3 separate regions of the Homo sapiens genome follow, and regions 2 and 3 are each linked to region 1. The links come from fine-mapping of genetic effects on gene expression. A gene starts in region 1. Each other region holds a variant in brackets. All regions are shown on one strand. Distances are between the middles of the regions.

What was found.
Region 2: its variant is fine-mapped to the expression of STT3A in T cells (TOPMed, PIP 0.98).
Region 3: its variant is fine-mapped to the expression of STT3A in whole blood (INTERVAL, PIP 0.94).

What each region holds. Positions count from the first base shown.
Region 1 is chr11:125,591,425-125,594,188 of GRCh38, reverse strand. STT3A (STT3 oligosaccharyltransferase complex catalytic subunit A) reads right to left here and starts at 1,337. Exons shown (of 18, transcript NM_152713.5): 1 at 1,271-1,337. It overlaps STT3A-AS1 (STT3A antisense RNA 1), which reads left to right and starts at 1,621. Exons shown (of 4, transcript NR_132372.1): 1 at 1,621-1,771. RefSeq lists enhancers at 1,471-2,065, 2,183-2,352.
Region 2 is chr11:125,055,056-125,057,819 of GRCh38, reverse strand. No RefSeq gene overlaps it. Among named protein-coding and RNA genes, the nearest start is that of SLC37A2, 6.9 kb to the left of the region's middle. The variant G/T (reference allele first, on the strand shown) is at 1,524.
Region 3 is chr11:125,697,350-125,700,113 of GRCh38, reverse strand. It overlaps LOC105369551 (a long non-coding RNA gene), which reads right to left. Exons shown (of 2, transcript XR_007062934.1): 2 at 496-2,764. Among named protein-coding and RNA genes, the nearest start is that of ACRV1, 18 kb to the right of the region's middle. The variant A/G (reference allele first, on the strand shown) is at 1,607.

The DNA.
Region 1 (2,764 bases):
TTGTACATATTTATGGAGTACAGTGTGACATTTTGGTACATGTATATAATGTGTAATGATCAAGTCGGGAAATAATTAGTAGATTCATCACCTTATTTTTTTTGTCTTAGGAATATTCAAAATCCACTCTTCTAGCTATCTGAAAATATACAACAAATTGTGTATTTTTGTTGTTAATTATACTCCTAATAATAGTTATCCTATAGAACACTAGAATTTATTCCTATCTAGTTGTACTTGTGTATCCCTTAACAAACGTTTGTCTATCCTCCTCCATGAATCTTTTTTCCCACTATTATTGGAATAAAGGAGAAAAACAAAACAACAACAACACTGGACTAGGTGGAAGGCATATAGAATGCTAGCCCCAACACTGAGAAGTCAAGCATGTTCTCCATAATTAACTGTCCCAGAAGAGCAGTTTAGAAATGTGTTTAAGTATAGTCCCAAAGGGAAAGCTTACTTTGCAACTAAAAATAAAGGCCTAACTACTCCAGGAGGTCAACAATCCAGCCATATCTCTCAGGGTTTGCAGCTGTTTTCTGGAATGCCTGAAATAGGAACAAACTTAACACCACTGCGTTGATACGAGCCACACACCAAAATGAGACTGCTAGGATCTCTACTTGAAAACTTGAGTAAACGAGCTAGTCATTGAGGGCAGGGCCGTAAGGGAGATTTCATCTCGTGCTCTTTGGTCACTTTCGCACACCGCCAAGCAAATAAGAGCAAAGACACCTTTCTTAAAACACTTACCAACCTGCTCTCCTCAACTGTGCCCTGCAAGCTGTGGCATCTCCTGCCACCCTGCCTCTAGTTTCCCAGACTGCAATTTCCCCAGCCCCGTTTTCCTACACACGTTTCCACACCCTCTCACGATCTTTTACTCTCTTCTCCCTTCCGGTCGTTCCAGCGGGTCCCACCTCCCTCTTCTTCCCACCCTCAAAGAACTGACCACCTCTGATACCCCTCAGCGCGGGACACTCATCACCCCAGCATCCTACGCGCCTTCCCCTCCATAACTAGTCCCAGGACCCAGTCTTTCCCACGCTCTGTTCTCAAGACCCACCTTACCCTCCCTCCCTAGACCTTCGCATCCTTCCATCCAGGAAGCCCCCACACCACGCCCCACGCCCCCTCCTCTGCAAGGCCCTAAGCTCTGCTCTCCACCCCCATTTAGAGTTTTGCCTCCTGCACTTCGTTCAGCCCCATCAACGCCATGGACTGCACCTGCCGCTGATTTTCAAGTTACGTTCTACGGCCTTCTCACCTGGCCGGCTTTCCTAAACGATCCGCGGGGCTCCCTCAGCCATCCGTTCAGCGGCGCACCCAACCCTGGCAGGAGCCGGGTCCGCCTCCCGGACCGCTCCCCCGTTGGCTGGCTCCAGGCCAATAGGACGCTTCTGGAGAGCGATAGGGTCTCGGAACTGTCTGTCAAATCCGGAGGCGTAAACCGGGCCGCGATTCAAGTTTTTAATTGGTCATTACAGCTATCACTTAGCAGTCTAGAGGCAGGTCTGTATGCTCCCGCCGAGCTGTCATAGGCCGGCGCGTAGGAGTCAAGAGCGCGGAAAGAACGTGCCCCAAGCAGTTTGGTTGAGGGCCGAGGAGTGACGTGTCGGTTTGCGGACCCACGGGGAGTCGCAGTGGGAAGGCGCGGCCCACTGACTCCCGTCATGTGACAAGAAGCGGAAACTACGCTGAAATAGGCCCTTGCTCCAAGTCCCAGTAACTCGGAATGCGGAGCCGCTCGTCTCCCGTCTTTTTTAAGGTAGAAATTGTTACCTAATACAAGGTGAAAGGAGAGGAGGGAAGCATTTTCTACCTATTTATTCTCAATTAAAACTCAAACGCGGACTGGTCCAGACAGTTCGTCTTTTGCAGGATGTGCCTGATAGTTGACTCGAGCTTTTACTGTGCCTTGGTAACTGCGATGGACCTGGGAACCTTGACAGAGTTCACAGCCCCTGGTTTTGTGAAAGAGCGTGCCTAGGCCTAAAGGGGTTGTCGGGGCTAAGCTGGAAGCATTTCTACTGCCAGCTGAGACAGCCACCGCCGCGGAGGCACAGCCCTCCCCAGCAGCAAGCGGGCTTCCTCGGGAGACCGGGAGGCAGCCCGGCCATGCTTAGTCAGTTCAGCCCTTTGTTAAAATACCGGCCAGAGAGCCGCTCTCCCTATCCTAACTTGCCTCTCTTCTCTCGCACCCCACGCGCTCCCCGACCCCCAATAAGTTTGCTGAGGGCAGAGAAGGGGACGAAGTTTGAGCAGCAATTCCATCATCTCAGACTCGCACGTGTACACCTTTATCCTCAGGCACTTCCACTCCCTGCGCGCCTCGGTGAGCCAAGGCTACACCAGAGAGAGTGGGAACGTCTCGCAGCTCTTCGAACTTGTTGCCTCTACCACTCACGCAGTTTCCTATTCTCCCATGAACGGAACCCACCACTTATTGAAAGGTCATTATTTAAATCACTGCTTCAGAATCACATGCATTTTTTTCAAAATCCACATGACCAGGCTCGCCCCAGGACGTTATGATTCAATAGATCTGCTTTTTTTTGGTTTTGTTTTTAGTAGTAAGTGTTCGATGTAATTTTACTTTAACAAAAGGAAACTGAAGCTGAGCCTGAAGGAATTACAGAACTTGGAGTAAATGCTTCTTCAAAATACGAGTTTTGGTCGGGCGCGGTGGCTCACCCCTGTAATCCCAGCACTTTGGGAGGCCAAGGCGGGCGGATCACGAGGTCAGGAGGTAGAGACCATC
Region 2 (2,764 bases), 540 kb after region 1:
CAGAGAACTCCAAGTGGGAAAGCAGGACTTTCACCACCTTCCAATGGTAAAGAGCGCCCCACCCCAACCACCAAGGTGTCATGGAGGTCACATGGGGAGCAGTAAGGAGCCCATACAGGGCGATATCAATGGAGGCCTAGTGGAGAGCCAGAACTCCCACCCTTTCAAGCAGTAATGAGGTGCCCTGCCCTGCCTCCCCGAACCAGGGATGTTAACAGAGGTCAAATAGGAAACCTGGACTTTCACCCCCCGCCACCCCTGGCAGAGTAGATAAAAAACATTACCCAAATACATGCTGTCACTTTCCTAAGAAACTAAAATACACTTACCATACACTTATTGTGCTCCTGGGCTTTTATCCCAGATAACTGAAAATTTCCATCCATACAAAAACCTGTACATGAATTGTCCATAGCAGCTTTATCTATAATAACAAAAAACTGGAAACAACCAATATGCCCCTCAATAAAGTTAAACAAATTGTGGTACATTCATACCATGAAATACTACTCAACAATAAAAAGAAATGAACTATTGACATAATGGCATTATGCCAAGTGAAAAAAAATCAATCTCAAAAGGTCACATACTGTATGATTTCATTTATATAACAATCTCAACATGACAAAATCATAAAAATGGAAAAGGGATTAGAGATGGACTGGAGTTAAGGAAGGTGGTGGTTGAGAGGGGTGTAACTTTATAGGGGTAACACAAGGGAGGTCTTTGTGGTGACAGAATAGTTCTGTATTTTGTTTGCATTGGTGTTTACGCAAATCAATGCATGTGATAAAATAGCAGACACACACATACTGTACTACGGTTATGTCAAATGTAATCACTGGGGAAAACTAGGTAAGAGGTACCAGGACGCCTCTGAACTGTTTTTGTAACTCCCCGTGAATCTATCCTTAGTTTATAAAAGTCTTATATATATAAAAGCTCTGTCAACTTTAATTTCCTTTTAGTAGTTCTCAGTTTTCTAATTCCAGAAACAGGATGGGAGAAATTTACTTTTTAAGTAGAAATCTTTCCTTTGGAGAATATGCTATGGAGCAGCATGGTCAGCTGCCCATATTAACTCAAGTACCTCACTAGCAATACAGATTTCAGTACTGTGCCTTGGATTCCAAGTTACGATACTCGTTTTTTTTCTTCAACTTTTAAGCTCAGGGGTACATGTGAAGGATGTGCAAGGTTGTTACATAGGTAAATGTGTGCCATGGTGGTTTGCTGTACAGATCATCCCCTCACCTAAGGATTAAGCCCAGCTATTCCCCCTGGTGTTCTCCCTCCACACCCAGCCAGTGCCACCCCCAGCCCCCACCCCGCCTCTGACAGGCCCCAGTGTGTGTTGTTCTTGCCATGTGTCCCTGTGTTCTCATCATTCAGCTCCCACTTGTAAGTGAGAACATGCAGTGTTTGGGTTTCTGTTCCTGCATTAGTTTGCTGAGGATAATGGCCTCCAGCTCCATCCATGTTCCTGCAAAGGACATGATCTTGTTCCTTTTTATGGCTGCATA[G/T]TATTCCATAGTGCGTATGTACCAAATTTTCTTTATCCAGTCTATCATTGATGGGCATTTGGGTTGATTTCATGCCTTTGCTATTGTGAATAGTGCTACAATGAACATACCTGTGCATGTATCTTTATAATAGAATGATTTATATTCCTTTGGGTATATACCTAGTAATGGGATTGCTGGGTCAAATGGTATTTCTGTCTGTAGGTCTTTGAGGAATTGCCATACTGTCTTCCACAATGGTTGAACTAATTTATACTCCCATCAGCAGTGCAAAAGCGTTCTTTTTTTCTCTGCAATCTTGCCAGCATCTGTTGTTTTTTGACATTTTAATAATAGCCATTCTGACTGGCATGAGATGGTATCTCATTGTGGTTTTGATTTGCATTTTTTTAGTGATCAGCGATGTTGAGCTATTTTTTTAAACGTGTAACTCTGCTTTTATCGAACAGCTTCATCGGCACCTCTAGACGGCTAGGAGATAATACTCCTCCCTACTACTCAGACAAACAAATTTAACTTGCAGAGAACAGACATGCCTGGTTCACACAGTGATGCTGGTGGAAAGATGAGACAGAAGCTCTCCCCAAGGGCCACTCCATTTGTAGAAACAGATTCCTTCTTATCATTTGGGACTAACCTCTGTCCCTGTGACCAATTAAGCCTATGATAGGCTTAATTAAGCCTAAGATAGGCTCAAGGAAGTTGTGGGAATGCCTCCCTGCCTTACACTGCTCCTTAGGTCTACAACTAGGAATGCATTCTTATTGTAACATCGTGAAGCAAGAGGAATGAAACAGGGAGAACAGGTTGAACAAATGAAAATGGAAATGGGTTTAGAAATCAAAAGCATGTGACTTCAAGAAGAACAATCATGCCTTTCACAGGCAAGGACTGAAAGGTCTTCAAGTGAAGAGTTTTATTAGTAAGATTAAAGAAGGTCTGAATAAACAAACCAGCACTACACAATAAAGACTGAAGATATCCCTGCTGCCTCTAGATGTCTACAGCATCCCCAACAGGTAAGCTCCAGATCTGGAAAAACTCAACTCTTTCATCTGCTTTGTCCCAGCAAAAACTTCATCCTAGAATTTCCCTACAACTCTGTAACACTAGCCTGAGAGCCCTGGCTCCTAGTACACTGTTGGCATTCCTTATTGTAAAATATACGAAGAACAGGCTACAAGAGTCAGGAATCAAGATCAAGATGGAAATTTCTGGGAAAAGAGTGCTGATCCACTCTA
Region 3 (2,764 bases), 110 kb before region 1:
GAGAGAGACCTTCACTGCCTTTGTATTTGGGTGGTCGCTAGTGTCTATGATTCATCCACCCCTGTTCTCACTCAACTCACTGGTTACTTCTTTCCATCTCATAACTTAGGCTATCAGTAGGTTCTGGGTGTGTAGGTGGCATCTAAAGCTGATGACCCCACTGGTCTGCCCCAGGCCTTGATACCTTCCTGGACGTTAAGCCCTCTCTGTCCCTCTGCCAAGTGGACATGTTTTCCTGAGTTTTCCCCTGACCCCTCTGCCTCCTGGTGTATGAAATGGAGCCCATTACCTTTCTGTGCTCTCTACAGTCACTGCTAAGTTGTTGGTACTGGAAACTGGGCAGTTAGTCAGTCAAATTAATGCAGGAATGGTGAGGGCTGAGAAGATGCAAGCGACACAGGGCTGCTGGGGATGAGCAGATGTGAATGAAGACGAGAATGAAGCGAGGGTTAATCCATTTGGCATTGTTATAAAGGAATACCTGAGACGGGGTAATTTATAAGGAAAAAAGGTTTATTTTGGCTCATGGCTATACTGGCTGCACAAACATGGAAGCAGCATCTGCTTGGCTTCTGGTGAGGCCTCAGAAAGCTTTTATTCATGGCAGAAGGCAAAGGGGGAGCAGGGGTGCCACATGGTAAGAAACAAAGCAAGAGAGAGGAGAGGAGGTGCCAGGCTCTTTTAAACCACAGCTCTCATGTCAACTAATACAGTGAGAACTCACTCATTCCCATGAGGAGGGCATCAAGCCATTCATGAGAAATCTGCTCCCATGACCAAAACACCTTTCATCAGACCTCACCTCCAATATTGGGGATCACATTTCAACATGAGATTTAGAGGGGACAAACATCGCAACAATATCACAGGGTGAACTGAGAGTATTTGGCGTCAGAAGGATGGAGCCAGTAGCCTGGAGAGAAGTGAGGAGGGATACTTGGAGGGCACTCCAGGATCCTGCAGGCTCAGCAGGAGCACGTGGGGAGGGGGAGCACACCAGAGATACTGGCACAGAAAGAGGTGAAGGGCAAACCACCACTGCCAAGGAAGTGATGGTCAGTCAGTCTTCGTGGTCATTAATTGTCCTTTATTTCTATTACAGAAGTCTTGATCTTTACAGCAAAAGGTTGAAACCTTCAGGTCATAAGATACATATGTGAAGGCGCACATGTATTTAAGCAGTTCAATTCCGTGTGATTATAGAACCACCCACCTGGAAGACAGGCATTCACATTTAGTGCCAGAAACAATACTTTACCTCAAAGTGGGGAGACCTTCCCCATCCATGCCACGTCTGGTCCCCGAATGCATTCACCACCCAGCAAGGCTCTCTCAGACTGGCTCACAGCATTACCTGTCTCAGCAAAAATGAAGAAATCCCTGGTTCTGCATCCAGAGCCATGGTTCACAGTGCAGTTGCCCTTGCCTATTAAACTGGCCTCTCTTAAAAAGCTTGCACACCATGCACATTGTGGCATCACCTGTAGAAAATAAACGTGAAGGCTGTGCCCAGGGCTGAATGGGCTGAGACCAAGGTGGGCTAGGCCACTATTAGGGCCCAGGAGTTCAAGGGCAAAGAATAACCCTAAGAACATCTCCCAGCATA[A/G]TCTTAGAAGGTGGAAATGTTCCCATCAGATTTTGTCCATTAGTTCCTTAAGGAGCTGGAGATTTGGTAAAGTGATTTAATTTTATTGAAAATAAAAGAAAAGGTATCCCTTTGACAGTGGTGCCTTTGTGCAGAGCACAGTCAGAGCATCTACATACAACTTCTCTGAGGTTGATGATCTCTTGGGAAATGAAAGAGGCATAAAGACTGTGCTGGCTTCAAGGAAGAGAGGCATTCTCACAAAGTTTCCCACCACACCCTGCTAAAGAGGTATCTGATATCCAAACATATCTAAGTGAAACTTGCCATGGAAAGATTGTACAGGATGTTTGCTATGGAAACACTGGTTTAGGATAAGCCCTTCAGTGACTTCTACCTACTAGACCACTGTCCCTAGGTTGCTTCTATATAGAAAGCCTTGAGCAATCATTGGCTCTGCCACATAATCCCAGCCAGACAGCCTCAACGCCCCATGTTGAGAAACACACACCAGCCTTGATTTTCCCAAGTGAGTGAAACCTCGGGAAGAGGCCTGACCTCTTGCCCTGGTAGGAGTTGAGGTGGGGACAGCAGAGAGACACCTCCAATTCTTGTTGGTCAGATCATCCCAGAATCTTGGTGTTGACCTCCTCCCGTGCTGGCCAGATCATCTTCAGCCTGCTCGCCAGCTATCTTCGCCCCTGTTCTCACCTCCTGCCCCAGCCAGCCCAAACCCTCACTCACACCTTGGAAGAACACAAGAGGAAAAACCCCCAGCAGCAGGAGCATGAGCGGGAACTTGTCCATCTCAGTCTGGGAGGTAAGAAAGACACAGCAGGGTGGCTGGAACCAGGCAGCTAAGTGCTCCGGAAAGGCTAAGACAGGCTGCTTCAGTGTGCAGATGAGAGCAGGCTGGAGAGTCTGGACTGAGCTGCTCCCAGGCTGTGGGCAGAAGCTTCCTTTTACACACTCGCCAGTGGGTGTTTCACCACTGTCCAGGCTCAGGAAAGATTTCCACAGAGCCAGCCCCTTTGGAGCTGCCAAGAATAAAGGACATCCCTGAAGCCCCGTCCTGTTCCTCATAGGTGAAGTCCAGGCCTTTCACTCTTCTTTCGACCCTCTCTGTGTTTGAGCTTATAGTCAGGACCATGGCCCTCCCATTACTGAATTGGTTTTGGC